Homo sapiens: one gene and its partners. The protein of the gene in region 2 interacts with the protein of the main gene of each other region in a pairwise test. Each region holds a gene or a part of one and is shown on either strand. Other genes may lie near its edges. The genes, in order: EDDM3B, KCNJ6, ITGAM and FUNDC2.

Region 1 (8,559 bases), on a different chromosome or scaffold from region 2:
AATAATGAGTTGAGAAAAGAAGCAATTTTCACTGAGCACCTACTATGAGCAAGAAACCATGCTACATGTTTTACACCCAGTGAGTTCTGCCAGTGCCCCAAAATCTGAATGGAACTAAAGCATGTCACCACTGTGAAAATAAGCAATCTAACGACCCAGTTGTTGGAACTCTAAATTATTTTTAACCTTAAAGAAATGTGATTTGGGGGCCTGAGTCACATGCCAGGCCACTGTAACCAAGGCAGCTGTAACCGTGGTTTCTATGTTTATAGATTAAACCTTCTTTCTTACCTGCATTGTTCGGTGAAATGTTGTAAATTACTGAAGGGTACAGGGGAAGACTCCTTCCCTCTCCACTGTTGATCTTCATGATAGAGTAACTTCCCTCTCCTCTTAGAAAGACTTCATCGCTATCACATTAAGATGGAATGTTAAATACACTCTTTTAAATTGGAAAGGAAATGAAAAACTATAAAGAAAAGAAAAGAAGACTTGGGGGACAAACTGTAACTAATTAATTTGTTGTAACTCTTAAACCAGCTGTTATAGAAATTGTTGTAATCCTGTTAAATTCTTTTGTCTTTTTCCTACATAAGCAAGAACTTAATTTTCAGCTTTGGAACACTGACTCCATTTCTGTGGAGTCTGTGTGTTACCGAATGGCCACTCCTAGCCTTTTGCTTGAATCAACTCTTTAAAACTGGATTCTGACACTTTTGATTATTTCAAATTGATGCTGCAATCAATGCCTACATCACAACTTGTCTTGAACTAAGCACACAATCATTCATACCCTCATCATATACACAAACATATTACATACATTAGATATGCACCCATAAAATACACCTTCAATCCCTTGCACAGCATCAATCACATGCATAGTCTAGATCACACACACCCATATCAATCACACTATACTCACTCTGTGCACATAACATATATGAATGTCACACACATTGCAGTCATATAATTTATTTAGGGAAGGGAAGATTGTTCAGCTTGGGTATGTATCAAGAGAGTCAATATCAGGAAAGTCTTGGGTTAATCAAGAACAGATGCCATATGAGCTGAATGTCGACAAAAGTATAAGAGTAAATTAGGTAAATGAAGACAAAAGTGTATTCCAGGCAGAGAAACAACACAGGCAAAGTTATGGTATCAAGAAATTATGCTATTCATAACTCTAAGTATTTGGAAAACATTGACAAATAAATGCAAGAGGGGAGTGGTAGGACTATTGATGGAGGCAGGGGCTGCTACTTAGAAAGCACTGAATACTCTACCAATACCTGAGGATGTGCATAGACTTTCTAGTTGCCGATAGGTTCTACCATCTTTAGGTCTTCTATGCTATCAACATACCCGTCCATGCTACAATGGAATTCAATGTAGTTGAAGCTCCTGCTCTCTGTGTAGCTATTTTTGGAATTCTCCTGGTGACACTTGAGTACTTTGAGAGGATTCTGGACCCATACATATGCATTTCGGAAGCGATCCATCCAGTTGTCACTAGTGCATATATGCTCGATTTTGTACCATGAGATATAGATAAACATGTGAGAGCTCTTGTCTTTCAGAGCTTCATTTTCTCTCATGAGGACATCACATTTGTACTCTCTGAATTCTCGACTTGGACTTAAGTAGTGCTGTTTCATGAATTCTCTCCAAGAAACTTCTTTGCTCTGTACAAGCAGTGTGCATAGGATGCAAAGTAGGGCCAAGAGTGTGCCCCAGATCTTTAGAGACGATGCCATCTCAGTCACCGGGGCCGCCTGCGTGTCCACAGAGAAGAGAAAGAAAAGCATTATCCAGACAATGCCCAGAGAGCTGAACTCCACCTTAAAATTCCTTCCCCACCAGGCAGGCACTTGGGTGCAATTTTACTATTTGGTTCCCCGATGAGAAGATGCTAATTCTCATTAGAGAATAGAGTTTCTAAGAACTAAAAACACGCTTCAGCCTGTGTAAGCGAAACACATAATTAGAAAAAATAGATGAAGTTCATTTTGAGAATTCCAACCATCTCCTCTCATCCCTCTCTTACACCCAACCTGAGGAGCCAATCACCCTCCAGCTGGCTCCTTTTTACCAGACCAACTCTCAGGAGATCATGTGTCCAAAAGAGAATGATATTTTAAGGTTTATGTCCTTGAAGTGGAAAGGGTTGTCAGATTTTAGGGAAATGTAGAAAATGAGTAACTACTTGGGAAGTGGTTCCTAGGTAGGAAGGCTTCGATTCGCTAAAATGACAGCCTAGCCTGCAATTACTTCTTGCCTGCTTCTCCAATTACTTAATGATGCTTCTCCAATCTTGACTTCCTTATAACACTTTCTCCAAAGCCTGAGTGGAACGTATGTTCATTACTAACTACCCATATTCCTTCTCAGGGGTCATTCCCCTAATTATCACTATTACAAATGATCTTGGTTTGTCAGAGCTGCTCCTTGAAAATGTCATCATAAAATAACTCCAGTTTTGAGGTTTTTATTTGTTTATTTATTTTTGAGACAGAGTCTCACTGTGTCACCCAGGCTGGAGTGCAGTGGCACAGTCTTGGCTCACTGCAACCTTCACCTCCAGGGTTCAATAGATTCTCTGTCTCAGCCTCCCACGTAGCTGAGATTATAGGTGCCTGCCACCACACACAGCTAATTTTTGTATTTTTTTTAGTAGAGACAATGTTTCGCCATGTTGGCCAGGCTAGTATCAAAATCCTGGCCTCAAGTAATCTACCCACCTCGGTTTCCCAAAGTGCTGGGATTCTCAGGCATGAGCCACTACACCCAACCAGAATTCCAGATTTGAAATATTCCTGTAATCAATCAAGCACCAAGACTAAAAGAGCCCCCACAGTGGCTTCTGTGGTGATAGCATGGAGTGTGGGGATCTTTTTGAAAGAGTCTACCGTTTAAACTAGTGCTCTGTCCTCATTTACCATGAGAAGTGTTCCCGCCCTTACTGAATCTCTAACCTGATTCACAACTCTGAGCATTGGTGTCCTCAGATGGACTTAATAATAGCTCCCTACAGACCTGCAAGTGTCTAATGAGACGCATGTATTTGAGAGCACTTCTAATGATGTCAAATGTCCACATCAGACACAGAACAAAGGGTCGGTACTTCCTATCTGTGGAACCCTGTCCTGATGATAAAGACCTACAGAGGATAGAAGAGCAGGATGTAAGCGGTTTTAATGCATTGTGTTTGAGAAGACTGGGGGTGAAGGAAGGGAGGGGCAGGGAAAGCCTGTATCAGTGGGACTGAGGCTGACCAGAATTCACACCTTTGTTTTCCATGATTTGGATCCTTCTCCATTGTTTGCTATCTAAAAGTTCAATCAGCCTCCTTTCAGTGCTCCTGGCTGTCCCCCAAACATCCTCAGCAGAGCCCTTCTTACCCTACTCAGACTCCAAGTTCAGGTCACTGGTTGTAGTTGGGATCAGTGTGTGGATCTGAAGAGCAGAGTCTGAGTCCTCCTTTCCTCAGGGCCCTGGAAATCTGCAGCAGTGGAGAAAGGAATAGCAGGGGGAGCTGCAAGGCTCCAGCTGATTGGTAGTGGAGGTGGTGATGGGGAATAGCCTTATTATGTGAACTTGTTCCTGTATCTTCTCATCTGGAACACTTGAGTTTATTCAGACAGTGGCCTCAAGCAAAGGCTACAAACATCAAAGGCTGACTCCAGGGCACAGAAGAAGTGCAAGACCCTAGAGTGAGGTGACCCCAGAAAGGGGTTATCTGGTGCTATCAGTAGACAACGAGAGACCTGGCTTCTGCACTCAATTTCTGACAAAGTTCTGGGAAGTCCCTGGAGGGTTATGCTATGTTACACAGAAACTTCTCTGAAGAAAGCCACTTATAACATTGTGAACTGTGGGACTTTCGTTGAGAGGTGAAAGAGTATCTAGTGAAACTGGTGGCCAGATAGTTATGATTAGGTAGCCAGTATCTGAAGTTTTACTAGGCAGTTTGTTATTGTCGATGAAACGAGTCAGCTGGGTGTGGTGGCTCACGCCTGTAATCCCAGCACTTTGGGAGGCCAAGGCGGGAGGATCACCTGAGGTCAGGAGTTCAAGACCTACCTGGCCGAGGTGGTGAAACCCCATCTCTACTAAAAATACAAAAATTAGCTGGGCGTGGTGGTGGGCACCTGTAATCCCAGCTACTTGGGAGGCCGAGGCAGGTGAATCGCTTGAACCTGGGAGGCAGAGGTTGCAGTGAGCCGAGATCACGCCATTGCACTCCAGCCTGGGCAACAGGAGCAAAACACCATTTCAAAACAAAAGAAAAGAAAAAAAAAAGAGTCAAACTCTGTAAAATATTTGAAGAGATTTATTCTGAGCCAAATATGAGTGACCATGGCCTATGACACAGCTCTCAGGAGGTCCTGAGGACATGTGCCCAAGGTGGTTGGAGCACAGCTGGTTTTATACATTTTAGAGAGGCATGAAACATCAATCAAATACATTTAAGAAATACATTGGTTTGGTCCAGCAAGGCGGGACAACTCAAAGCTGATGGGGAGTGGAGGGCCTCCAGGCCATAGGTGTATTTAAACATTTTCTGGTTGACAACTAGTTTTGTCTAAAGACCTGAGATTGATAGAAAGGGAATATTCAGGTTAAAATAAAGATGGTAGAGACCAATTCTTTCGAAGTCTTATAGTGGCTGCCCTTAGAGACAATAGATGACAAATGTTTCCCTTTCAGATCTTAATTAATATCTTTAGGATTGGAAGGTCTGGAAGAAAAATATTTAGCTATGTTAATAGAGATTCTTTACAGATGCAAATTTTCCCCCACAAAGAACAGCTTTGCAGGGCAATTTCAAAATGTGGCAAAGAAACATGTTTTGGGGCAAAATACTTTTTCTTGTTTGTCTGGTAATGTTATGCCAGAGTCAGGTTGGAAAGTAAAACATGATATACAGGGTTAAATAAAACTCATCTGATGAGAATTGATGATTTGTAGGGCATGACTCCCCAGACCCCTTAGATAGGAATTTGGGCAAGATAAAAAAAATCAGAGTTTAGTCCTCATTAACAATAACCTTTGCTGACGCTGTAGTCCTTACTGCCTTAGTAAAATGTCAGGTAGCCTAGCCATAGTTTCCACAATGTTCCTATATATCACATCTGACTCTGAAGTATGCATCACAAGGTGTTGACCTAATTGTTTTTCAGGAACTCAAGACTCAGCCCTAAACTCAGCTCACTCTGGTCAAGACCACCAGCCCTTAAACTGAGTTTGTGTGAGCATCCCATGGGTGACCTTTCCATATCACATCTGGAATTTCCAGCACGTTTCATACCAACTCCCCCTAAATTGGTATATGCAACGAATATTGTTTCAGTAACAGTAACCAAAGGTTTCACTTATGGATAATGTAAGATACTTGAATGTATTTTCTTTTTCTATTTATTTATTTACTTTGGAGACAGAATCTCCCTCTGTCACCCAGGCTGGAGTGCAGTGGAGCAATCTTGGCTCACTGCAACCTCCATTTCCCAGGCTCAAGTGAATCTCCTGCCTCAGCCTCCCAAGCAGCTGGGACTACAGGTGGGCACCCCCACACCCTGGTAGTTTTTTGTATTTTTGGTGGAGGCGAGGTTTCATCATGTTGGCCAGGCTGGTCTCGAACTCCTGACCTTAAGTGATCCGCCCGTTTCGGCCTCACAAAGTGCTGAGATTACAGACGTGAGCCATTGTACCTGGTCTTGAATGTATTTTCTATCAACATCCGCAAGGCCACTCCTACCTGAGCCACCTTGGTTGAGTTTGTCACTGGACCACCTAGCTATTAGAATGTCAGAATATTCCGTTTATATCCAGAACTTTTCTTCATACTTCAGCTCCTGTCAAGCAATCATTGAATAATAGGGAATCATGTGCTGATAGACTCTGTGGGGCACGGGAGAGATATTGTTCCTATGGAACTGAACTGGGGTCTGATCGTCCAGCACAGTAAGATCAAATATCCACACCAAGGTCTGCGGCAGGAGAAAGGAGGGAGTTTATTTGCAAAGCAGCAAGCAAGGAGAACCTTGTGGCTCACACTGAAGACCTGACCTCTCTGATGACTTCAGGTAAGGGTTTTTAAAGGCGGGAAAAGGCCGGGTTCGGTGGCTGACGCCTGTAATCCCAGCACTTTGGGAGGCCGAGGCAGGCGGATCACGAGGTCAGGAGATCGAGACCATCCCGGCTAATACAGTGAAACCCCGTCTCTACTAAAAATACAAAAAAATTAGCCAGGCGTGGTGGCGGGCGCCTGCAGTCCCAGCTACTGGGGAGGCTGAGGCAGGAGAATGGCGTGAACCTGGGGGGTGGAGCTTCCAGTGAGCCGAGATTGCGCCACTGCACTCCAGCCTGGGCGACAAAGCGAAACTCCGTCTCAAAAAAATAAATAAATAATTAAATAAAGGCGGGAATAAATTTCAGGAAAGCAAAAGTTACAGGCAAAATAGTAAATTAAAATGTGGAGATTACACATTAGTTTGGCTGAATAAGGCAAGGTATTGAAGCAGGGGCTCACAGGTCATAGGTAGAGTCAAAGATCATCTGATTTGCAATTGGTTAAGGAGATGAAAGTTTGTTTAAGAATGGGGGTCAGCAGAACAGAATGTTAGCTTTGGATCATGGGTGTGACTTTCTCCAGGCCACTCGAAATAATTTAGATGAACGGTGGTGAGAGTTTAGTCCTCAGTTTCCCCCTTATCTGAGGTCTATGTGCCAGCAGATCTGTTTGTTGGGGGTCTGAGTTTCTGAAGAACTCAGGGATGTATGTTAAGATGCTATTTTTAGTTTCTATAGGGAACCAAACATCCCCTGATTCTAACTTCCCTGGTTATTGTTTTAAGCTAGCATTACCTTCTTGCTTATCTAGTTCCTCTTTTTTCTTTTCAAGGCTAGCTAAGAAATTGAAGATTTTCCTTTATTTCCATGCTGGGTTGGGGAGGGTGCCCTGCTCACCTCTAAGATAGATCCCTGCTCTGTCTTATTGCCTCAGAGCAGGTTCTATGCATCCTCCTACTCTCTAGGTCTTTTGATGATAGAGAAGAGATAAAGGAAACAATTCTGGGCATCTGGATTTGGATGACTTGAGAGGCGATTCTGAGGGAAAATCAGTCGTTTGTCATGTGCCCACACATCCAGAGCTCTTTCCAACAAGTGTGCATTATCTATTGAAGACTTAAATTCAAGTAGTGACTCAAGGAATGTAGAGAGAGGTGGGAGAGAGAAGCTACCTGAGCCAATGTTCGAAGAAGCAAGCTAAGAAAGAGCTCTAGAGCTTTTCAAGGCATCATATCTGATGATATATTCTAGTACATCAGTGAGTAATTTTGAGAATTTTTAGAAGTAATGCATTTGAAAGTAGTTTTAAAACAATAAAATGTAACCAAATGCAGGCTTGGCTGCTTGCAAAACCAATAACAAGGACAAGATGCAGTGAAAAGAAAGAAGCTTTATTCCAGAGCTAGCACTGGAGAAGTGGCCATGGCTTGTGCCTTAAAGGAACCATTTCAAACTTTAGCCTGGGGAGAGGGGCTTACAAAGGGAACTTGCAGTGGGTGGCATGCAAGGAGTGGTGCTGGGTACAGGTCCGTGCGTCTCGTTCTGGTGGCTATCTTGAGTCATGGTCCACCTGGAGCATGGGCTGGCATCATCCCCACAATGGCCGGGTTGTTGACTAACTGCTTTGAGGTAATCTCTGGAATTTTGCAGCTGGGTTTCCATGCCTGTAATCTGTCTCAAAATTAGTCCCTAGAACTTCTAAGTAAGCACATATTTAGATACAAGCCTACAGTCAGATAAATGTATGTGACGTAAGGGAGTGTACGGTGGGAAATGGCGGGGGAACAAAGACTCTTGGTATGTTTCAAAGCTATATATTAAGACTGAGGAGGGGAAAAAATTTCTGCAGTTTGCTTCAAGGTTATATCTTGAGACTAAAAAAAAGAGAGAAAAAAAGAAAAAAGTTTTAAAATGCATTTTCTTTCTTTCTTTTTTTTCTTTTTCTTTTTTTTTTTTTTGAGGCGAGTTTTTGCTCTGTTGCCCAGGTTAGAGTGCAGTGGCACGATCTTGGCTCACTACAACCTCCACCTCCTGGATTCAAGTGATTCTCCTGCCTCAGCCTCCCAAGTAGCTGGGATTACAGGTGCCCTGCCACCACGCCCGGCTAATTTTTGTATTTTTAGTAGAGATGAGGTTTCACATGTTGGTCAAGCGGGCCTTGAACTCTTGACCTCAGGTGATCCACCTGCGTAGGCCTCCCAGAGTGCAAGGATTACAGGCCTGAGCACCGTGCCTGGCCTGAAATGCATTTTTGAAGTTCAGTTACTTGGTTACAGCTCCCTACTGTCAAATCCCATCCATTTCTATGGGAAGTGGTCAATGCAGGCGATCTGGCTACTTCCTGCTGAAAAGAGGCATAATTAGGAGGTAATGGGATGGAATCTGCTTACCTGGAGTTGGAAATATTCTTGAATTCCCAGATTGACAGTGGGAACTTGCTGGAGCATTTTGGTGTGGGGAACTAAGAGCTGCTGAGAAGTCTGTCTT
Region 2 (7,857 bases):
TTGTAACATTTTTTAAGTATGATATATCACTGAAGACTTGAGAATCAGCTAATTTGACAAACCCTCTTCTCCCACTTAAGGACTCAGAAAGACAAGAGCTTAGGGTGGCTTTGCACAGCTGGGCAGCCTCCCAGCGGTCAAGACGGGATATACACCAGGCCTGCTGGACCCTTCGCAGGGCTCTGCAGACAAGGTCTCCCCAGCCAGGCACAGTTTGAGCCCAGACACCGTTCCATATAAAGTCATATTTAGAGACTTCCACTCAGCACAAAATTAGCAGTGAGAGCTCAGAGTTGTTGACCATTCAAGGACAAGAACACCCTGCCATGTAGGGGGTAGCGGCAGTGAGAAAGCCATGGCCTCTGCCTCCCTCCACACATCCCAACCCACCTCCAGTGAGAAGGACATGGCCTTTGCCTCCATCCATACACCCACCCCATCTCCAGTGAGAAGGACATGGCCCCTGCCTCCCTCCACACACCCACCCTAACTCCAGTGAGAAGGACATGGCCTCTGCCTCCATCCATACACCCACCCCACCTCCAGCCCTCCCAACCTCAACAGCCCCCCATCAACACCTATCCTGGTATTTGTTCTAAGAAAGGGAAAAAAGCAAATTTTCTTACAAATGAATGACTTTTCTTATTTTCAATGAAGGACTACTGAGGGAGATCATCTAAAAGTCAAAGCTGTCAGACTAGAGAGTAGGCTCTGCAGAACAGATGCTGTCTCTTCCTGAGGCTGAAACACAAAAACAGATCCAGGAGATTGATTTTTAAGGCAACTGATCATCCATGAGCAAGGTTAACTCATAAGTTAGGTTGGGGGCACTCAAATCCCATCTCCGGCTATGTTCTTATTCAGATAAATGATGGTTTGTGGAGAGATGACATTTGTCCTTTAACCAAGATTAAAAACAGAGTGTCCATAAAGGAAACACATGGCAGAGTCAAACGACACAGAATTTAAGTCTGGAGGAAGAAATTTCTTACCAAACTTGTAGAAGACTTTAGTATTATTGGCCAAATAAATAATTTCATAAGTGGATTATATGCTTTTAAACAGCAGAAATCGGTTCCAAAATTCCCCTGCACTCAAGTTTTAGGAGAGCTTTCCTAATGCATTATTAACTAATGAGTGAACCAGTGCATTAATCATGAAAGCCATAAGAAACAACATAACTAGACATGGTGCCTCATGCTTGTAATCCCAGCATTTTGGGAGGCCAAGGTGTGAGGATGGCTTGAGACCAGGAGTTCAAGACCAGTCTGAGCAACATAGTGAGACCCCCGTCTCCATGAAAATAAAATAATTGGCCAGGCATAGTGACATAAGCCTGAGCCTCCTGTGCCTACTCAGGAGGCTGAGGTGGGAGGATCACTTGAACCCAGGAGATCAAGGCTGCAGAGAGCTATGATGGTGCCACTATACTCTAGCCTGGGTGGCAGAGCGAGACCCTATCTCTAAAAAAAAAAAAAAAAATTTAAACTTTTTTAAAAGAAAAAAAATAACCACAAGCTAAAATTACAGATGTTGAATGTTGAGGAGGCAGAAACCAAATCAAATATGTAAGCACACAGACAGAGAGAACATTTCCCCACCCTTTTTTACTTACCTTGGCATTGAATCAACCATTAAAGTACAATGCATGCATACTTACCGACAAAAACCAGAAATGTTTTTTAAACCCTGAAATTTGGCCAATAGTTCAAAGAGCTTGTTCAAGACTCTTGCCCTAAACATAAGGAAAGTGACAAGGGAACAATTTATTACAAAAAAATATTGATTGCAAGTCTGTTACATGCAGGCACAGATCACATACATGGTTTTGTTTAACCTTATAACAACACTGTGAGTTGGGTATCATGATCAATTTTGTAAATGAGGAAACTGAGGCTCACGAATTTGGATAGTGTGTTGTAAGTCAGTTCAGGCTGCCATAATAAAATATCACAGAATGGGTGGCTTAAACAATGGACATTTATTTTCTCATCGTTCTGGAGGCTGGAGTTCAAGATCAAGGTGTTGGCAGGGTTAGTTTCTGGGAGCCCTCTCTCCTTGGTTTGCAGATGGCCACCTTCTCCCTGTGTCTCATATGGCTTTTCCTCTGTTTGTGTGCACCCCTGGTGTCTCTCCCTCTTCGCATAAGGATACCAGTCCTATTAGATTGGAGCCCCAACCCTATGGCCTCATATAACCTTTAACTATCTCCTTAAAGGCCTTATCTCCCAATACTGTCACCTTAGGGGTTGGGGCTCAAGCCCCATATGGATTTGGTGAGGACACAATACAGTCCATAACAGATATCATGGCCAAGAGCCCACTAAGAGTTGCTAAGTAGTAGAGCTAAGCCTGTCTGAATCTAAAGAGGACTCCTTCATCAGAGCTTACTGCCTCTCCCATGCCACAGCATCTCAGAGTTGGGAGGCATCCCTCTGTGAGAGCTGACTCAGTAGAACCTGCTGGCAGGGACACAATTTTGCAGCAATAAGCTCCGTCCTGGTGGGCAGGATGGTGAAGTACTTACACAAACTAGATCGAAGAGCACAGAAGTCCAAGTCAACTAGAGGCCTATCCAGATGGTGTGGAATAAAAATGGCTTTGTCTACTTTGTTTATAGCTACACAAATGGTATTTGGTTTCACCAGCCCATACAAAGTGTGCCGTTCCATTGTCCTCAAAGAGCCAGCCTTTCATTCAGTGTTTCTTTTCTTTTCTCCAAACCACCAGCTAACGTCCTGGAGGGCGACTCCATGGATCAGGACGTCGAAAGCCCAGTGGCCATTCACCAGCCAAAGTTGCCTAAGCAGGCCAGGGATGACCTGCCAAGACACATCAGCCGAGATCGGACCAAAAGGAAAATCCAGAGGTACGTGAGGAAAGACGGAAAGTGCAATGTTCATCACGGCAACGTGAGGGAGACCTATCGCTACCTGACCGATATCTTCACCACATTAGTGGACCTGAAGTGGAGATTCAACCTATTGATTTTTGTCATGGTTTACACAGTGACCTGGCTCTTTTTTGGAATGATCTGGTGGTTGATCGCATACATACGGGGAGACATGGACCACATAGAGGACCCCTCCTGGACTCCTTGTGTTACCAACCTCAACGGGTTCGTCTCTGCTTTTTTATTCTCAATAGAGACAGAAACCACCATTGGTTATGGCTACCGGGTCATCACAGATAAATGCCCAGAGGGAATTATTCTTCTCTTAATCCAATCTGTGTTGGGGTCCATTGTCAATGCATTCATGGTGGGATGCATGTTTGTAAAAATCTCTCAACCCAAGAAGAGGGCAGAGACCCTGGTCTTTTCCACCCATGCAGTGATCTCCATGCGGGATGGGAAACTGTGCCTGATGTTCCGGGTAGGGGACCTTAGGAATTCCCACATTGTGGAGGCTTCCATCAGAGCCAAGTTGATCAAATCCAAACAGACCTCGGAGGGGGAGTTCATCCCGTTGAACCAGACGGATATCAACGTAGGGTATTACACGGGGGATGACCGTCTGTTTCTGGTGTCACCGCTGATCATTAGCCATGAAATTAACCAACAGAGTCCTTTCTGGGAGATCTCCAAAGCCCAGCTGCCCAAAGAGGAACTGGAAATTGTGGTCATCCTAGAAGGAATGGTGGAAGCCACAGGTAAGATGTGTTCTATCCTGGGATGGCTGTGGGATAGATGCTCATTTTAAACTGGACCTGATGTTCTTATCTATTACAAGATCTAGAATACTGAACCTCACTCAATATTGACAACATCCCCTTGCTTCATGACATAGTATGCCTACATGTCTCACCTGAAGTATATCCACCAAGAAGCCTAACCATTTAGTTTTTTAAAGCCCTTTGGAAAATAAATTAATGAACAATGAAAAATCACCATGTAATATATTTTAAGTCTCCAAATATTTACCTAAATTAAACTCTGATCTGTCTCTAAAGCATGTTTTAAATGGCCTTAAAACATTGCTAATTTAAATACTTGAGGTTATTTGTTACCAAGTTAGAAGGAGGAAGTTAAGCCTTTCAAAGGAAGCCTGACAAACTGCTTTAATAAAAATGCAATTTCACCCATTCTTTGAGAGTCATTTATAAGGCCTATAGCATTGGTTTTTCTTTTGTATGAAGTGAGTGCCTAGTATCTCTCCACATTCAACCTGCTGAGCTCCCAGTAAGTATAAAGCTGCAGACACAGTAAATAACTCTAGCAGAAAAGAAAAAAGTTGAAGATCCATTCATCTTAATCCCGCCGGCCCTCCTGCTGTTAATGGCTAATCATTGGGATGTTTTAGGGAAGATGATCTGTTCAGGAAATAGAGAAAATGGTCTGTTTTTACTGACGTCTTCGCTCATGTCTGAAATTTGCACGTTACACATCCCAACAGCAAAGCAGGTTCTGCCCATGTTTGTATGTAACATCCCCCAAAACAGAGCCATCAGCTAGGACTCAAGATAACCATAGTGCCTCACGGGGAAAGTATAAACCAGAACCCTAATTCATTAAGGTCTTTATTGTTCTTTGAGGTAGTAATAGTGTCTTTGGGGTCCTTTTTCCTGATACCATCAGCCCTTTTACGCTTTTAAGTCTTCAGCTTGAGATTCAGGTGGTTTATATTGTCTGAAATTGCATGACCAGCAGGCTGGCCCCATGTTCTTCATCAACCTGTGACAAGTAACTTAATCCTGTGATCCCTTTTAGGGAAAAGCCATGGGTCCCATGTTTCTACCTCCCTGTACCCAACAGGCAAGGTCACAACCTCTCACAAATTTCTTTTACGGTGGTGGTGTGAAACTTTTGCTATAGGGTTTTTAAATGCAGCAAACAGTGAAAACGTGAGTAAAGGGCTTTGCATGGAGCTCAATGGTAGGAGCGGTCTCCTTTCCATAGAACAAAAGGCACAGGAACCTAATCGGAAAGTAGCTTTAAAGAATAACAAAAGTCACTGTTGCAAAATAAGACATAAGTGCTCCAGGTGTTAACAGGACTATCTGTACCTTGAGCCTGATTTGGGGGTGCATTTGTGTGGCAATAGTTGGGTGGGGAGGAGGAAGGGAGATAGAAGGGAGAAGTAGAAGGGAAGGCAGGGGAGGAGGAAGGGGAGGAAGGAGAGGAGGAGAAGGGGAGGAAGGAGGGAAGAGAAAGGGAGGAAGGAGAGGAGGAGAAGGGGAGGAAGGAGGGAAGAGAAAGGGAGGAAGGAGAGGAGGAGAAGGGGAGGAGGGAGGGAAGAGGAGGGAGAGAGGAGGAGGGGAGGAGGGAGGGAAGAGAAAGGGAGGAAGAAGAGGAGGAGAAGGGGAGGAGGGAGGGAGGAGGAGGGAGGGAAGAGAAAGGGAGGAAGGAGAGGAGGAGAAGGGGAGGAGGGAGGGAAGAGAAAGGGAGGAGGGAGAGAGGAGGAGGGGAGGCTGGGGAGGAGGGAGGAAAGAGAAATAATTCAAACAGGGAGCTGTCACTTTCCTACAGACCAGAAACTTCCCCAACCTCAGCTGAGCACAGGGACTCTGGATCCCCCTAGCGGCCACAGAGCTACAGCCTCTGACACTATGAACTGACCACTCAGGATGCAGTTTTTCTTTTCCCTTTTCACCATAAATTCCCCCAAGAGGACATGAGAGAGGGCAGTGTCTCCAAGCTCAAGAAGCAAAAACCACTGGAGACGTACCCTCTGGTTACTGATGCTAGTCTGAGCTTTAAATTGTGGGAGTTAAGCTTTGTGTTCCCTCAAACCAGAGCCCAATCTCTGTAAAATAAATGAATCTGGAATAAGCAAATTATCTTTGTGATGTCCCTGAGTCAGAATTCTCCCTGGGGCAGGCCCTGGCTTTCTGATGACAGCTGGTAATGAGTGAGCCTTTCCAAAGGGAGGAATATGGTTTTCTTGGTAATTAACAGTGATACTTGCCTCTGAGCACCCTATGGCCTTTCTACAGCTTTCATAGAGAAATCTGAGTAATTACCAGCAAAATCAATCCAAACGCTCACCCCATCCCTGGGAAAAGGCAACTGCTACTCATTTTCTTTTAAAAAATAGTCTTCTAATTTCTAGACTTGGGGGGGGGGTTCTAGAAAGTTCTGGAGGTGTCTGGAAACTGGAAGTGTCTTGGTCTTTTCCTCAGGGGAATCATACAACTCAGTACCCCCAGCACAGCTGCTCTCTTACGCTTCAGCAGGATACTGTTTCTTTGTGAATGAAAAGCTCAATTAGGATTTATGGGCATTAAACAGGCCCTTAGGGGAGAAAAATGCTTCAATCTCTCAAAACCACAGGAAAAAAAAATGTGGACCAAATGCACACTCGAGGAAAACAAATTCACAGGGATCTAATTATTCATTGTAGTGCTGGACTGGAAATCAGGAGCCGTGATAATAGCAAGCTGACACAAAACAGCTTCCCCTGCGCTCATCACTTCTTTCAACAATGTCGCAGTTGACCTTAACCTGCTGTGCTCAGTGGTCTCCACGAGCAGGCCTCTTCCAGGGAGGAGGGAAGGCCCACATGGCCACCTTCACGCGGTGCCCTCTTCCCTGTTAGGAAGCAGGCATCCTGGGCACAGGATGATCCCAGCGTGGTGTTTTCCGGAGACCGGAGTTGTCCCACAGGAGGCCACCTGGGTCCTTCCGTCTGCTGGGAGCTCAGGCCCGGTGCAGGCGAGTGGTGCTCTGTGGATGCACTGCCTTCCAATGCCAGCCGCATTGCAGGGTCAGGTTCCATTTTTAGAAAACGAAAGTGGGCTCCTTGAAGGCTGGAAGCGAGCCCCCCTTTCATGGCCTTGAAGGGACTGCACAAAAGACAGACCCATGCCCACGCAGAACAGCCCCGAGTCCTTTGTGAATGGCTTTGGCCTGGTCCCGCCTGAAGTCAGGAGGGACATGCCAGGCGACCTTTCAAGAACCTTCCAGTCATGTGGTTCTATTTTTGAAAATGAATCAAACCCTGGAAAATTCTGACACCAGCCACTCAGACATCTAGGAGTTGGCTGTGTCTCATCTGCAGATATATTTTTAAAGGGGGCCGTTTATGTTCCTGACACATGGGCGATTTTGAGATAGTGGTGTTTACAGAAGGTTTCATAGCTACGTAAACAAACGTGCTCAGCAGCTGTGGCCCATGTGTGTTAAAATAGTAAAGCATTCATATAGACTGTTATTTATAGAGGGCAAATGGGCCTCGAGGCAAGATGACAGCCACGCAGCGCTGGGCTTGCTGCCAGTCAGCCCCCACTACGGCCTTGCTGATTGACGAACTTCCACATTTACCCCCAGCGATTATACAACTGCGACAGGCAGCACTTGCCCACTCCTCGGCAAATGTGCTGGCAAGGATGAGTCCCCGTTAAGCCTTTTGGTTATTTTACACTTCTTTTGATGGAACCTATCAGACTTACACAAAAACAGACCCAGTAGTATCACTAACCTCTGTGTCCCCGTCATTCTGCTCCAGTGATTATCAATTCAGGGTCAAACTTGCTTCCTCTGTATCCCCACTCATTGGCTGCCCACCAGAATCACATCATCCTCATCTGCAAATATTTCGGTATGTGCCCCTAAAAGATAAGGATTCTTTTAAAAACATAGCTATCATACCATTATGACACCTAAAATAATGACCAATAAATTAAGATCCAACATCTACCAAGTGTTCAAACTTCCAATCGTCTCTTACATGTCACTGTTTTTTATATTTACAATCAGCTTGTTTGAATCAGGATACAAATAAGGTTAACACATGGTGATTGGTTGAGATATCTTGTAAGCCTCTTAATCTATGACTTCTTCTTCCATCTGTTTTTTTTTCCAATAAGTTTTTCTTAAAGAAGATAACTTCTGAAAGATTTAAATACTGCATAGAACAC
Region 3 (7,857 bases), on a different chromosome or scaffold from region 2:
TTCCCTCCTTCCCTCCCTTCCCTCCCTTCCATCCTTCCTTCCTTCCTTCCTTCCTTCCTTCCTTCCTTCCTTCCTTCCTTCCTTCCTTCCTTCCTTCATTTCTTTCTTTCCTTTCTGACATGGTCTTGTTCTGTCATTCAGCCTGGAGTGCACAGGTGAAATCATAGCTCACTGTAGACTCAAACTCCTGGGCTCAAGCAATCCTCCCACCTTAGCCTCCTGAGTAGCTGGGACTACAGGCATGTGCCACCACACCTGGCTAATTTTTTGATTTTTTTTGTATAGACGAGGTCTCACTCTGTTGCCCAATCTGGTCTCAAACTCCTGGCCTCAAGTCATCCTCTTGCTTGGGCCTCCCAACTTGCTGGGATGATAGGTGTAAACCACTGTGCCTGGCTATGGCCACTTTTGAGCTGTAATGGCAGAATTCAGGAGCTGTGATAGAGATTGTATGGACCCTGAAGCCTAAAACATTTACCTTTACAGAAACAGTAATTGTGGAGGTGATAGTACCTTTCCAGAAGAAGGGGGCTGGTCTCTGCTCTTTGCTTTATCTCCCATAATACAGCCCAGTGATTTGAGTCCATTAATCCCATGTTATGCTTGCATTGCATGCCATAATTGGGAGATGCTATAATTTATTTTATTTTATTTTTTTAGAGACTCCCTCTGTCGCCCAGGCTGGAGTGCAGTGGCATGATCTTGGCTCACTGCGACTTCTGCCTCCTGGGTTCAATCGATTCTCCTGCCTCAGCCTCCTGAGTAGCTTGGATTGCAGGTGCCTGCCACCACGCCTGGCTAATTTTTGTATTTTTGTAGAGACAGGGTTTCACCATGTTGGCCAGGTTGGTCTTGAACTCCTGAGCTCAGGTGATCCACCTGCCTCGGCCTCCCAAAGTGCTGGGATTACAGGCTTGAGCCACCGTGCCTGGCTTGTAATCTCCTTTTACATTACATTAGATCTCTTGTTAATGAACATTTAGATTGTTCCCAAACTTTTGCTCTATGAACAATGCTGTCATTTTGCACATGTGCAAGCCTATTTGGAAGTAAAGGCTAGGACTGGGATTGTGGTATCCACGGGTGCATGAGCACGTGCAATTTTAATAGATTTTTCCAGATCCCCCTCTACAGTGGTGGCAGCAATTTACACTCACACCAGAAATTCATGAAAATACCTACTTCCTCATACTCCCTCACTCATTTGCCAACTCAGTGTGCTATCAAACTTACTGATCTCTGCAGATCGAGTAGGTGAGAAGTGGTATCTTAATTTAGCTTTAAATTGCTTCTTTTTTTTTTATGAGAGAGGCATTTTCTGTGAACATGTTTTTCTTATCTGTTGGCCATTTTTCTTTCTTTTTTTTTTTTTTTACTAGTTTGTACAAGCTTTGAGTACACTGAGGAAAGTAGTCTGGGGTATGAGTTGTGAAGCTCTCTCCCTTGTGTATTATTTTTCTTTTGAGTATGCTTATGGTAGTTTATCACATACAAAAATTTATTTATTTATTTATTTATTTATTTATTTATTTATTTATTTATTTATTGAGATGGAGTCTCGCTTTGTCGTCCAGGCTGGAGTGCAGTGGAGTGATCTCGGCTCACTGCAACCTCTGCCTCCTGGGTTCAAGCGATTCTCCTGCCTCAGCCTCCCGAGTAGCTGGGACTACAGGTGCGTGCCACCACGCCTGGCTAATTTTTTTGTATTTTTAGTAGAGATGGGGTTTCACCATGTTAGCCAGGATGTTCTCGATTTCCTGACCTCGTGATCCACTTGCCTCGGCCTCCCAAAGTGCAGGGATTACAGGTGTGAGCCACTGCGCCTGGCCCAGAAATTTATTGAAAATGACTGTGTGGAGGCTGGGTGCAGGGGCTCACGCCTGTAATCCCAGCATTTTGGGAGGCCGAGCTGGGCTGGTCGCTGGAAGCCAGGAGTTCGAGACTACCCTGGCCAACATAAGGAAACCTCATCTCTACTAAAAATACACAAATTAGCCAAGCATGGTGGCACACACCTGTAATCCCAGCTACTCAGGAGGTTGAGACAGGAGGAATGCTTGAACCTGGGAGGCAGAGGTTGCAGCAGTGAGCCGAGATTGCACCACTATACTCCAGCCTGGGTGATGGAGTGAGAATCTGTTTCAAAGAAAGAAAATAAATAAAAATAAAAATAAATAAAATGACTGTGTGGGCCGGGTCCAGTGGCTCATGCCTGTAATTCTAACACTTTGGGAGACTGAGGTGGAAGGATTGTTTGAGCCCAGGAGGCAGAGGTTGCAGTGAGCTATGATTATGCCACTGGACTCCATCTTGGGCAACAGGGTGAGACCCTGTCTCAAAGAAAAAAAAAAAATGGTTGGCCTGGGACTACAGGTGTGTACCACCATACCTGGCTAATTTTTAAAAACATTTTTTGTAGAGATGGGGTCTGGCTATGTTACCCGGGCTAGTTTCAAACTCCTGGCCTCAAATGATGCTCCTGCCTCAACCTCCCAAGGTGCTGGGATTAAAGGCATGAGCCATGGTGCCCAGCTTGAATTGACCTATTTTTATTTTTAAAATTTATTCATTTATTTTTTGGGACAGAGTCTTGCCCTGTCTCTCAGGCTGGAGTGCAGTGGTGCTATCTCGGCTCACTGCAACCTCTGCCTCCTGGGTTCAAGCAATTCTCTTGCCTCAGCCTCCCATTTAGCTGGGATTACAGGTACGCACCACCACGTGTGGCTAATTTTTTGTATTTTTAGTAGAGGCGGGGTTTCACCATGTTGCCCAGGCTGATCTTGAACTCCTGAGCTCAGGCAATCCACCCCCTTGGCCTCCCAAAGTGCTAGGATTACAAGCATGAGCCACCGCGCCTGGTCCTATTTTTAAATGACTTCTGGTTTTTGTGTCATTCTTAGGAAGACCTTTTCTCATTCTGAGTCTTAACATTTTCCCATTTTTTTCTTTGCTAATTCTTCCTCCTAGTCATAGGAATTTAGGAATCCGGGTATGGGCCCCCACCGTCCTCTGGGTGGCAGAACTTCCTCTGTGGTCTCCTTCTCTCCCCACATGTCGAAGTTTTCTCTGTTCCCACTTCTCCCCACAGGGTGGTGGTTGGAGCCCCCCAGGAGATAGTGGCTGCCAACCAAAGGGGCAGCCTCTACCAGTGCGACTACAGCACAGGCTCATGCGAGCCCATCCGCCTGCAGGGTGAGTCACTGCCCCGCCGGGCTGGGACTGGGATTCCCCTGTGAACACATAGGGACTTTCCAGGCACTCCTGTGTCCTGGGGATCTGTGGTGGGGACACAGGTGCCTGCCTCCGTACCCTCTCCTCTGCCTGCAGTCTCTACCCTAGACATCCCCAGGCAACCCCTCTGTGTTCCTTTCTTTCCCAAGATTTAGGATCCCCCTTCACCGTCAGACCTCCTTGTCTCCCGCATGGAGGTGACCCCTGCCCAGCTCTTCCACAGCCTTCTCTGTCCCCCCACCAGGGTGACCATGCCCATATCTGTCCCCGCAGTCCCCGTGGAGGCCGTGAACATGTCCCTGGGCCTGTCCCTGGCAGCCACCACCAGCCCCCCTCAGCTGCTGGTGAGTGGGGCTCGATCAGAGGAGCATCCTAATGGGGGTGTTTGGGGGCCCACGCATGGTGGGGCTGGGGGTCTTGTGGAGGGTGGAGGTGCTGGGGTACAAGGACAGGAAGCAGGGGCAGCCCCTTCCACTGGCTCCTGTCCCCTAGGCCTGTGGTCCCACCGTGCACCAGACTTGCAGTGAGAACACGTATGTGAAAGGGCTCTGCTTCCTGTTTGGATCCAACCTACGGCAGCAGCCCCAGAAGTTCCCAGAGGCCCTCCGAGGTGGGTTGCCTTTGGCAGAGGGAACAGATGCGCAGCAAAAGACCAGGGGAGGGGGCAGGACTGAGGTGACGTCTGCTCAAGGTCTGGGCTCTGGGTGCAGAAGAGTGGGGGAACTGGGTCCCATTAGAGTCAGAAGCTAGGGAGGTGCTAGGGTCTTGTACTTTAGGAAAACGCCTTGGCTAGGCACAGTGGCTCATACCTGCAATCCCAAAGCTTTGGGAGCCCAGGAGCTTGAGATCAGCCTGGGCAATGTAGTGAGATCCTGTCTCTAAAAAAAAAAAAAAAAAAAATTAGCTGAGTGTGGTGATGAGCACCTGTAGTCTTAGCTATTTGGAGGCCAAGGTGGGAAGATTGCTTGAGGCCACAAGTTCAAGGCAAGCCTGGGCAACATAGGGAGATCCCCGTCTCTACAAAAAAAAAAAAAAATTAGCCAGGCGTGGTGGCACACACCTGCAGTCCCAGCTACTCAGGAGGATCACTTGAGCCTGGGAAGTTGAAGCTGCAGCAAGTTATGATTGCACCACTGTACTCCAACCTGGGTGACAGAGCAAGACCCTGTCTTTAAAAAATAAGTCCAGGTCACACTGCAGAGGAGGGGATGGTGCAAGGTGTCATTGGCAAGAGGTGGGAATCTTGGGGACCATCCTGGGGGGCGGCCTTCCACACCCCTGTTCCCCAAACCTCTGTTGATTGAGATTCTGAGTGACTGTATGGATTTTTTTTTTTTTTTTTTTTTTTGAGGCAGAGTCTCGCTCTGTCACCCAGGCTGGAGTGCAGTGGCACGATCTTGGCTTACTGCAACCTCTGCCTCCCAGGTTCAAGCGATTCTCCTGCCCCATCTTCCCAAGTAGCTGGGATTACAGGTGCCCGCCACCACACCCGGCTAATTTTTGTATTTTTAGCAGAGACGGGGTTTCACCATGTTGGCCAGGCTGGTCTCGAACTCCTGAGCTCTGGTGATCTGCCCACCTTGGCTTCCCAAAGTGCTGGGAATGAGCCAGGGAATGAGTGGGGGGCATGAGCCACCATGCCTGGCCAGAGTGCGTGGATCTTTCAAGCTGCTTTTTCCCACTGCTTTGTTCGATGGCTATGCCATCTTTTTGCTTGTCTTCATGTTGATTCTGGGACCACAGGCGAATGTTTCTCCCTTGCATTTTTTTTCTTTCTCAAGCCCTGTTCCTCTATATTTCACCCTCCACAGTTAATCCTCCTTCCTCCACAGAGAAAACAAAAGCTTCAGGCATGGACTCCCTCCACTTTCCCCTTCTCTTATTTTATCTTAATAAGCGGTTTTCCAGTCTTCACTGGAATTTGTTGACAAATTCTAAAGGAGCTGTAACACCGCACTTTCTCCTTTTTCTCAAATTTCCATAATGACAGCACTCCTGGCAGTGACTCACTCGTTTTAGAGGAAGACCTGTCTCTCCTCTGTCCCATGACTAAATTCTTCCATATGGGCTTTTGAGAGTCTCTCATGCACCAACTAAGGTGATCACCTATCTTTCTTTTTTCTTTTTTTTTTGGAGACAGGGTCTTGCTCTGTCACCTAAGCTGGAGTGCAGTGGCACAATCTCGGCTCACTGCAGCCTCTGCCTCCTGTGCTCAAGAAATTCTTGTGCCTCCGCCTCCAGAGTAGCTGGGATCACAGGTGCGCATATACTGATTTTTGTATTTTTTGTAGAGATGGGGTTTCACCTTGTTGCCCAGGCTGGTCTCGAATTCCTGGGCTCAAGAGATCTTCCCACCTCAGCCTCCCACAGTGCTGGGATCACAGGTGTGAGCCACTGCGCCTGGCCCAGCATCTCTTGAATCACTTGTTTTCTCTCTAGGACAATTAACTTCCCCCTTCCTCTGGCTGTAAACACTCTTCATTCTATCTGTATCTGAAAAGCAATCAACCACCACAATCGATAGCCATGAAAACAATCTTCTCTCTTCCAGTCTCCTCCTCATCTCCTGCCATCTCTCCTCACCCTCACCACCCAAGCTTCCTGAGTGCATTCTCTTCACCCCCGGCTGGCCTCCAGCTTCCCTCTCCACCTAGGGGCACTGGGTTCTGGGTTCTCTTTTCACCCACGTGTTCTTCTTTCCTGAAATCACCCAGTTCTGTGGCTTCAGCTAACACTTCTACCTCTCCCTCTTTAGACCTCACTCTCAGGGTTCAAGACTACTTCTTTAAAAAAGTTTTCATTTATTAAAAAATATATAATACATACACTTGGTTCAAAATTCGAAAGGGTGCGGTAGCTCACACCTGTAATTCCAGCACTTTGGGAGGTCAAGGCAGGAGGATTGTTTGAGGCCAGGAGTTTGGGACCAGCCTAGACAACATAATGAGACCCCATCTCTACAAAAAATGCAATTAGCCAGGCATGGTGGCGTGTGCCTGTGGTCTTAGCTATTCAGGAGGCCTCCCAAAGTGCTGGGGTTACAGGCATGAGCCACTGTGCCCTGCCAGTCTTTCTAAAATACAAAACAAATCATCTCACTTCCTTTTCTAAGAACCTTCTGTGGCTCCCCATTGCCTACAGATAAAGTCGAGCTCCTTATTGGAGTAGAAAGGCCCTTGCCCGCTGCTCTTTGCTTGATGCCACCGCTGTGTCTCCATCGCCGTCACATACGTTTGTCCCTGTAGTGCTGTTTCCATCAAACGGCATTCCTGGATTCTGCCAGAATCCTTTTGAGGCCCTTGTCCCATATATCAGTAGGAGTCTCAACTGGGACCAAAAGCACATTCCAGTAATGTAACTGCCCAAGGGGTTCACCTTGCTTGCTGCCTAGACAGAGCCGATTCATCAAGACAGCAGAATTGCGATAGAGAAAGAATAATTCACACAGAGCCAGCTATGCAGGGGACCAGAGTTTTATTATCACTCGAATCAGTCTCCTCGAGCATTTGGGGGCAGAGTTTTTGAGGATAACTTGGTAGGTCGCGGGGGAAGCCAGTGAGCTGGGAGTGCTGATTGATCAGGGATGAAATCATCGGGAGTCGGAGCTGTCTTCTTGCGTTCAGTTGGTTCCTGGGTGGGGGCAGCAAGATCGGATGAACCAGTTTATTGATCTGGGCAGTGCCAGCTGATCCATCAAGTGCAAGGTCTGCAAAATATCTCAAGCACTGATTTTAGGAGCAGTTTAGGGAGGGTCAGAATCTTGTAGCCTCCAGCTGCATGACTCCTAAATCATAATTTCTCATCTTGTGGCTAACGTTAGTCCTACAAAGGCAATCTAGTCCCCAGGTAAGAAGGAGGTCTGCTTTGGGAAAGGGCTGTTACGATCTTTGTTTAAACTATAAACTATAAACTATAAACTAAGTGTCTCCCAAAGTTAGCTCAGCCTACACCCAGGAATGAACACGGACAGCTTGGAGGTTAGAAGCAAGATGGAATCAGTTAAGTTAGATCTCTTTCACTGTCTCAGTCATAATTTTGCAAAGGCGGTTTCAGTAAGATTTATTTACAAAGAGGGGGGTTTATTTATAAAGGGAGTAATTATAAAGCTGTGACAGGCCTAAGGGAGCCATCAGGGACTTTCCAAGCCCTGGGCAAGCAGGTCTGTTGCCACCCCTGGGTTTATGGGTTGAGGAGAGGGAGAGCTCACCAGGGTCTGGAGAGAGTCATGTGGAGCTGGCTTCCTTCTGAGGAACAGTTGGTCTTTTGTGAAGGACATAGCTGTCCCCAAACAACCTCAATGGGAGAACACCCGGACCTCACTGCCCTCCTCCCTCTAGTCTTCTGTTGAGCCCCCTCATCTGCCAAATCCAATGGGAATCCAGAGGGCAACAGAGTCCTGGTGATGGGGTCCCTGCAGGTTGACCTCCCAGGCCACAGAGCTGAGCGGCAATGGGTAGAAAGTGGATTTGGGGATGGGGCAGAAGGCAGAGGAGCACATTCCACATCACTTTATATGTGTGTGCCCTTCCCTTTTCTAGAATCTACTCCTTTTGTATATCTGGCAAATCCTTCCTTCCTTCCTTCCTTCCTTCCTCCTTTGCTTTCCTTTCCTTTCCTTTCCTTTCC
Region 4 (7,857 bases), on a different chromosome or scaffold from region 2:
AAGTCTATGAAATTTTCTATGTAGACAAAGATGTCTATGATTGGAGACAGTTTGACCTCTTCCTTGTGAATCAGGATGCCTCCTAATTCTTTTTCTTGCCTTGTTGTGCTGACTCTGAATTCACTTCTGGTACGATATTTAATAGGAGTGGAGACGGCGGACAGCTTTGCCTTGTTCCCTGCATTCGTTCTTTCACCATTCTGTACAGTGTTAGCTGCAGGGTTTTTTATGTAGATGTTCTTTATCAAGTTGAGGAAGTTCCCCTCTATTGCTCTTTCTCTGAGAGTTTTATCATGAATTTGCGTTGAATTTTGTCAGATGTTTCTTGAGTCCTGCCTTGAGGTTAGGCCAGGCGATACTGCAGGAAAAGCAGGAAACACGCCACCAGTTTGGTGGTGCTTTGAATTCTGGTCTTCTCCAATCTGCACGTCGCTGTTTTTATGTAAGAGCCTTCAAATAGCTAGTCCATGTATTCTCTCAGTTTAATAGCAGGATTTTGTGGGATAAACAGGGTGGAGTAAATGAACCAGAGCCTTCTTTTAGATACAAATGTTGATACTCAACTATGTGGTTGCTGTAAGTAATTTGTTCTTTTTAGTACTAAGTAATATTCTATTGTGTAAATATGATACAATTTGTTTATCCATTCATGTGTTGATAGACTTTTGTGTATTTCCAGTTATAGACTCATAAATAAAGGTACTATGGCTTGATTACTTGTGAAGTTGAACTTTTTCCTTTTTGTGGACACTTTCCTCTGAATTGCCCTTACCCATTTTTAAAGTGAACTTTCTTACTGATCTCTATAAGAAGTTCACTTTTTTGAGTATCAATGTTTTGTTTATGATACACATCACAAGTATTTTCTCTAGTCTGTTTGGGTGACTGGTGGTGCCATTAGCTAAAATAGGGCCTAGAGGAAGAGCAACAATGCAGGAGGAGACTCTAGCAAGGTGAAGACTTTTAGTTTCAGATATTTTGAGATTGCCAAAAATTTGGTAGAGAGAAGTGATATTGATAGGGCATTGATTGATTGGCTACAGTCATTCTCTTCATTCCTAGGATGATATTAATCCATCATCAAAATCTACATGCTTGAATCAGATTTACACTGAGTTTTAGTGTTTGTGCCTGCTGTTTTTATCAAGGGAAATAGGTATATGCTGTAGGTGTCTTTGGATGTGGTTCTCTTAATATCCGTTTATATGAACTTGCTCATGAGAAATCTCTGTGGGGCCAGATGCTAGATTTCTTCCTGTTAAGCAACAGTAATAACTGCCTGAATGCTTTGCTCTGTTCACATTGTCAGGAAACTGACACTCATGGGCACATTGTCAGAGTCATTCTCTGGAAACATTTGTATTGGCTGTAAGGTCCATCTCTTCACCCTACATCTTGACCCCCCACCTTGATTTTCATCTTATGTAACTCTTTGTAAAAGGGTTGTAAGAGTATAAATAATTTAAAAGAATTGCCAGTAGTTATTTCTAGTGCCAGGCATATGGCTTCGCATATAGGGGGGATGCTGAGTAGATGTCATCATGATACAAAGAATCAAATGGCAGATGTCTCCAAAAATGGAAAGTCAGAGGGTTTCGAGAGTCTACTTCAGGATTTATCCTGACTAAAAGAAATAACAAATCTGTTTCTCATTTCTTGTTGTCATTATTGTTGATACTGTAGCTTGCAAACCATACTGGGTACATCAAAGTTGACTGGCAACGAGTGGAGAAGGACATGAAGAAAGCCAAAGAGCAGCTGAAGATCCGTAAGAGCAATCAGATACCTACTGAGGTCAGGAGCAAAGCTGAGGAGGTGAGACTTGCATTGTTCACGTGTAGTGTGTGAACAGTGCAGACAAAAACAGGGCTTAACCCTATTGTACCATATCTCAGTGATGGACAGGGCTTAAGCATTACAAAGAACTTAGAGTAATGAGACAAAACTAACTTGGATTATCATCACTTCAGAACATTTTTAAAAGCTGGATAATTGTTTGGTGACCTTTGTCTGTGCACATTTGTGGAGTGATTATCCCTTTAACCAGTTCTTGTAGGAATGTGGGGCAGCATAGTAGGTGGGAAGGATATATGGCCAGTATAATTATTTTGAGTCCCATTTTGTCGCTATACACGCATATCTCTGAAACATTCATACTCTGCTTGTTCTGCATATAACTAGTGGAAATGTCACAAGTATTCAACTCCACTGTATATCATCAAAATAGCCATAGATGATATGTTAAATAAGTGGATGTGGCTGTGTTGCAATAAAACTTTATTTAAAAACAGGTTCAGATTGGATTTGGCCCATGGGCTGTAGTTTGCTAACCCCTGATCTTGTTCATTAAAGCCAAGTTAGATTATGACCTGGCACTGCAGGGACAGGAGAAGTCCTTCCTTTTTAAAAGGATATTTTTTGCTGCTGCTTTATTACCTTTAGAAATATGTCAGATGTTGCAAATAAATAAGTACACTGAACTGGGGAGAAATAAACAAGGATCAGGGTGTCAAGAAGATAGCTGGTACTTTCTGTAGCCTGGAGTGATGAGAGATTCTCCCATTAGCTCACTCTAGCCTCACAGGGAAAACAGACAGATTGAGTGCAGGGGAGGAGAAATACCCTGTGTGCGCCTCAGGCTTCTCATGTTGTGAGTGGCTCTTCGTGCTGGTGATTGGCAAGTGGCTGGTCAAAGCTGGTGCCTTTACCCAGAGTGGGAAGGTGGCAGAGATGGGTATCTACAGGAGCCCAGAGCCCAGATAGTTTCTCTTTCCTTTCTTCCTTCTGTCTCTCCTCAAAGTTAGGAAAGTTACATTTTTTATTTCATGAAAACTTTATTATTCAAATGTTTATAAAAATAATGCATGGCTGGGCACAGTGACTCACCACAGTGAGTAAAAAAAAATTTTGTAAGAGAGGTCTCACTCTGTTGCCCAGGCTGGAGTGCAGTGGCACAGTCATGGCTCACTGTTGCCTCAACCAAGCGATCCTCTGACCTCAGCCTTCTGAGTAGCTGGGTCTATAGGTGTGTACCACCACACCCGGTGAAGTTTTAAATTTTTTGGAGAGACAGGGTCTCCCTGTGTTGTCCTGGCTGGTCTCAAACTTCTGGGCTCAAGCAGTATTCCCACCTCGGCCTCCCAAAGTGCTGGCATTACAGGTGTGAGCCATGGCACCTTGCTGAAAACTTTAAAAATAATACTGGAAGTGTATATAATAAAAAGCATAAAGTTAATATTTGATTAGAACCAACTGTTGACTCACAGAGGGAGTTTGTTATAAAGTAACCAGATAATTTGGAATTGAGTTCACTGTCACAGGCCCTGGGGATGTAGTGGCTGGTTTTCCTACTCATAGAGCCGGTGGTCTGATTTGAGAAACAGGATGAAGATTTAGTTCAGTATTTACCAACAAGATGACTTCAGTGAGAACAGTTTGGTGGGGTGGTGGAGTTGAAAGCCAAATTAGCAAGTTGAAGAAAGAGTAGTAAAAATAATAAACGAAACCAATTTTCTCAGGAAGTTGTATGATTTTTTTTCTTCACCCCAATGGCAGATGACAAAAGTGCTTCATTTAAGGAAATGTAGAGGTCCAGGAGAGATGGAGGAGGAGTGGAAATGAGGCAGGAAGACATAGGCATCGTTGGAGTAAGGGCTTACTGGAGGGTTAGAAGACAGTGGTCCTAGGAGGATGGGGTTGGTAGTGTGAAAAATGTTAGGGGAATGTCAGGGTGTGAGTAGCTTAGGTGGTTTGGGGATGGAAGTCACCGTACTTGAGTTCAAGAAATGATCAGGCCAGGATGTTGGATGTCTTGTTCATATGAACACTTTCTAAGGTGGTGATCACACTTAGGAGAAAGAGGAAGTCTGAGCCACTTATCAAAATTGTCTCTGAAATTGGAAGGGTGGGGAGTGGTCAGGAGATTGGTAGAGCACAGACTAAGGAGCCATAAAGAGTGTCTGAATGTATGCACTGAGTCTCAGATGACCGGGAGCTATTCCAGGAGGGTAGAGGGGAGGTGGGAAGCTTTGGGAACTTAAGGAAATAAGAACGTCACCTGTTAATCATCTTAGATGTGGTGAAGTGTGAGAATGAGAATTTATAGCATCTACCTGGGAGCAGGTTTCAGGGGGGAATGCATGGATGGAGAGATTTAGGGGAGAGACTTCAGGAAATGAGAAGCCTCTATTGGAGGGTAGATGCCAAAGAGGATGGAAGGAGCAAAATTGGAAACAGAATTGCCTCTGTAACCAGTTTATTTAGTGCAGCTTTACTCTTTCGCCATAACTGTCCCCATGAACTCTCCTTCTTTGTCCTTGATTCAAAGAGCCATTGTCTCTACCTCCTGATGTGCATCCTCCTTCCCATCAGGCTCCCTCTAGTCTTATTCTCCCCACACCAGCCAGTAGTCATTTTCATATGTAAGTCTATTTAATTATTATTAAATAGACTATTAGTGTAAGTCCATTGCCCTTTGGGTAAAGTGCAAATTACGTAACCGATGAGGGGATTGACATTGTTAAGACTGGCATAGGTATAATAGAGATGATTCTTAATATTATTAACATCCTTAGCAAAACAACCCATTGTACTATCTTCTGTTTTCAGGTGGTGTCATTTGTGAAGAAGAATGTTCTAGTAACTGGGGGATTTTTCGGAGGCTTTCTGCTTGGCATGGCATCCTAAGGAAGATGACCTCATGTTCATTGTTCCTGGTTTTTTCCAGCCAGCAGCCTCTACACTCCATCATAGGACATCGAGTCCCTCCTCCTCTTCTCCCATGCCTTCTTCCCTGCCATGGCAAATCTGAGTGGCTTCTCTAAGCATCTGCTGGTACAAGTCAATGTGGCACCATGAGCTTCATGGTGGCAGAAGAGACAATAGTCCTTAGCTCTCCTCCCAGTACACCCCCTACTTGGCCAGTCTGTAGGCCAACAAGAAGGTTCCTTTACCCCCATGCAAGACACTTATGAGAACACATTACAAGATGGCTGACCGTGGAGGATGAGTGGATCCTGAAAGGTTGTCCCAAACTGTTGATTTGGAAAAGAAATAAGCACATAGATAACCTTATTGTGTGCTGCATGGAAAGGAACTGAATACATTTGCCTTTAAGCATGAAAGATTTTGGTATCTTGGTGTCTACTTTCTTTTTTAGTTGGTTTTACATTACAGAAAGCTATTTAAATGTGTTATAATTATGCCGACAAAATTGGCAGCATAATTACTGTAATTGAAAAATCTGATATTGTCCAGGAATGCTTTCTACCGTACAGGATAATGTATCTCATGGCTGTTTCCAAAGGGTTTATTTATTGTAAAACAAGTGATTTAGGTGGGAAAGGGAAGATTTTGGATTTTTATTTTGTAGAAAAGGTTTTAAGCTTTGAAATGTGAATGAAATATCCTTATCAAAACATTAGGGGTGGCCATAACTCCTCTGTGCCACTTCTACTATTTTTTTTTTTAATCTAGTTAGTATGAAATACAACATTTAAACCGGAATTTTAAAGAAGTAGCTTTCCAGGGATTCAGAATTAAGAAAGATAGTGATAGGACATGAGAAATAAATTTCCATCAAGTGTAATCTACCGTCTCATGATGACCACAACCCTGAGAATTATTCTTTAAAAGCTTACACACACACACACACACGGGCACACACGCACACACAGAATCTTACCACATTTTGCTGTAGTGGCATGTTACCATGTCTACAGTCCCTACTAGAATATCAGTCAGCTTTCAGAGGGCAAGACTTCTGTCTTCACCATTATACTCACAGGGCCTAGCACTTAATAGGTGCTGAGTATTTGAATAATGACTTTATAGAAAGAAAACTCACTATTAAAGGTTAGTTTTACTCAGAATTGTTAATCTTGGAGATGATCTCTTGTGAAATATGAGTGTGTTTCTAAGGCCATACATTTAAAAATGTTTGCATTTTAACCCGTCTTGAGAATGATGTATTGAATTTGAAAATCAAAACTACCAGTGGATGTGTGGAACTTTACAGAAACCACCTATTTGCGTTTTTCTCCTTACATTTAAGGAAACATAAGCCATTTTGCTTGCAATATGTATGAATCATCTCAAAACCATAATGGTATGAGCCTCTTTGCTGCATATTTTGCTATAAGAACTTATTTTTTTTCACTTTTTATTATGGACGCTTTCAGGAATATATAAAAGTAGAGAATATAGTACAATAATCCCCCTGTGTATCTATCACTCACTCACAACAATCATCAAATTATAGCTCTGCTGGTTTTTACCAGTTATTGTGAAACAAATATCAAAATGTCATTTTATCATATTTCAGTATGTATCTCTAAAAGGTAAGAATTATTTCTAAAAATCATAAATACCTCATCATATCAGACATTAACAGTAATTACATAATATCCAAAATCTGATCAGTGTTCAAAATTTCCTCAAGTGTTTTATATTTAGTTTGTTTGAATCAAAATTCATGCAAGGTTCACATCGTATTTGCATGATTTGGATAAGTCTCTTAACCTTATAGATCCTCCTCTATTTTTTTTTTTTTGCTTGCTATATATTTATATCTCTATATATATTGATATAGACATATGTAGTGACACTGAGTCATCTGTTTCCTGCTTCCCCACACTCTGCCTCTCCTGACATCTGGGTCTCTGGGTTATGCCATATATGGTGATAGTGGCTGCAGCCACTTTACCTGTGTGACTTACCCACAGCAATGGGATGGTAACAGCAAAGCTAACCAAAGTGCTCTGTGCCCCTTTGGGTTGCATGTGGGGAGACTGGCCACCCAATGCCTCTCCAGTGGGGTAGGGGTTGTCTTTTGGTGCATCTGTTTTTCCTGTGATTATTGGTGAGGGCAGCAAAGATTAGCAGGTGGTTGTAAACTACCTTGAGTAGGTTGTAATAAATAGTCTGGCCTCAGACTGTATTCTGATTGTCTGAATTAAGATCTGTAGGTAGGTCCCTCCTGAAGTTTTTTCCCAGCTGGCTGCCTCTACGACTGTGAGGGTCATGGTTGAGGTCAGTATTGCAGGTTGGCCTCATCCTGCTAGTATGAGAACGGCTGTGAGTTCTGCCCACGGTGTGAGGCCACTGTGACCACTTGGGATTGTGCAGAGCTGGCATGGAGGTTGAACACGCACAGCTGCACACCTTGTTTTCAGTTTAGCTGAACCATCGGTGAAGGAGGCTCAGGCATTTGGGGTTACCTGTGAATCAAGGCCCTATTGTGCCAGCAGTTTTGTTTCAGGTGGTGAAGTGGGAGTTAAGGTTTCCCCCAAAAGAACAGCTGCCACTCCTCCATGCAAAACCGAGATGATTCAAGGACCAGGCAGCTCCACCTTTCAGTGCACTACTTTCATTTGACTGGAGAGGCCTGCTTAGCTAGGCACGTATTTTCTCCAGTAGCAGAGTCCAATGACGCTCTGGACTTCCTAATTAGTGGTGGTGGGGCGGAAGTTTTTCCTTGGGAAGAGCGTTGTCGCTGTATATGGTCCGCAGAAACTTGACTTGGAATGTGTTCGGGGTTTCATCGCCCCCTTGTGGCGGCGACGTGGTAACACCGCACTCAAGGCTTCCAACTTGTCAACCAATAGGATGGCATCTACGTAGTGAAGGCTTCCCTTCCCTTGTCCTGCAGCGTGCTGGACAGTGTCCCGGCTCAGGGACCCCTTCTGTCCCCTTCCTGGCTACTATGGGTCGGCCCTGCGTCCTCACCACTTTGAGCCACCCTTTGACCCAGCGTCTCTCCCGCAATGGGACCTGGTGGGATGGGGACTTGGAGCATGCTACAGGAGAGGTAGAACTTTTGAGTCTCTTCTTCCCAAGGTTCTCCCCAGAGTCGGAGAG

The links.
Region 1: the proteins of KCNJ6 (region 2) and EDDM3B interact in binary tests that used the Homo sapiens proteins (3 or more experiments, as listed by UniProt).
Region 3: the proteins of KCNJ6 (region 2) and ITGAM interact in binary tests that used the Homo sapiens proteins (3 or more experiments, as listed by UniProt).
Region 4: the proteins of KCNJ6 (region 2) and FUNDC2 interact in binary tests that used the Homo sapiens proteins (3 or more experiments, as listed by UniProt).

What each region holds. Positions count from the first base shown.
Region 1 is NC_000014.9:20,763,349-20,771,907, reverse strand, and holds EDDM3B (epididymal secretory protein E3-beta precursor), read right to left. Parts: upstream 3,505-8,559; 5' UTR 3,402-3,504; intron 1,776-3,401; 5' UTR 1,758-1,775; coding exon 1,314-1,757; 3' UTR 960-1,313; downstream 1-959. UniProt on the Homo sapiens protein: Possible function in sperm maturation.
Region 2 is NC_000021.9:37,710,005-37,717,861, reverse strand, and holds part of KCNJ6 (G protein-activated inward rectifier potassium channel 2), read left to right. Parts: intron 1-626; exon of another isoform or gene 627-741; intron 742-1,660; exon of another isoform or gene 1,661-2,730; coding exon 2,731-3,651; intron 3,652-7,418; exon of another isoform or gene 7,419-7,548; intron 7,549-7,857. UniProt on the Homo sapiens protein: Inward rectifier potassium channels are characterized by a greater tendency to allow potassium to flow into the cell rather than out of it.
Region 3 is NC_000016.10:31,262,307-31,270,163, forward strand, and holds part of ITGAM (integrin alpha-M isoform 2 precursor), read left to right. Parts: intron 1-3,088; coding exon 3,089-3,192; intron 3,193-3,475; coding exon of another isoform or gene 3,476-3,504; coding exon 3,505-3,575; intron 3,576-3,723; coding exon 3,724-3,841; intron 3,842-7,857.
Region 4 is NC_000023.11:155,049,987-155,057,843, forward strand, and holds part of FUNDC2 (FUN14 domain-containing protein 2), read left to right. Parts: intron 1-1,683; coding exon 1,684-1,815; intron 1,816-4,608; coding exon 4,609-4,686; 3' UTR 4,687-7,857. UniProt on the Homo sapiens protein: Binds directly and specifically 1,2-Diacyl-sn-glycero-3-phospho-(1'-myo-inositol-3',4',5'-bisphosphate) (PIP3) leading to the recruitment of PIP3 to mitochondria and may play a role in the regulation of the platelet activation via AKT/GSK3B/cGMP signaling pathways.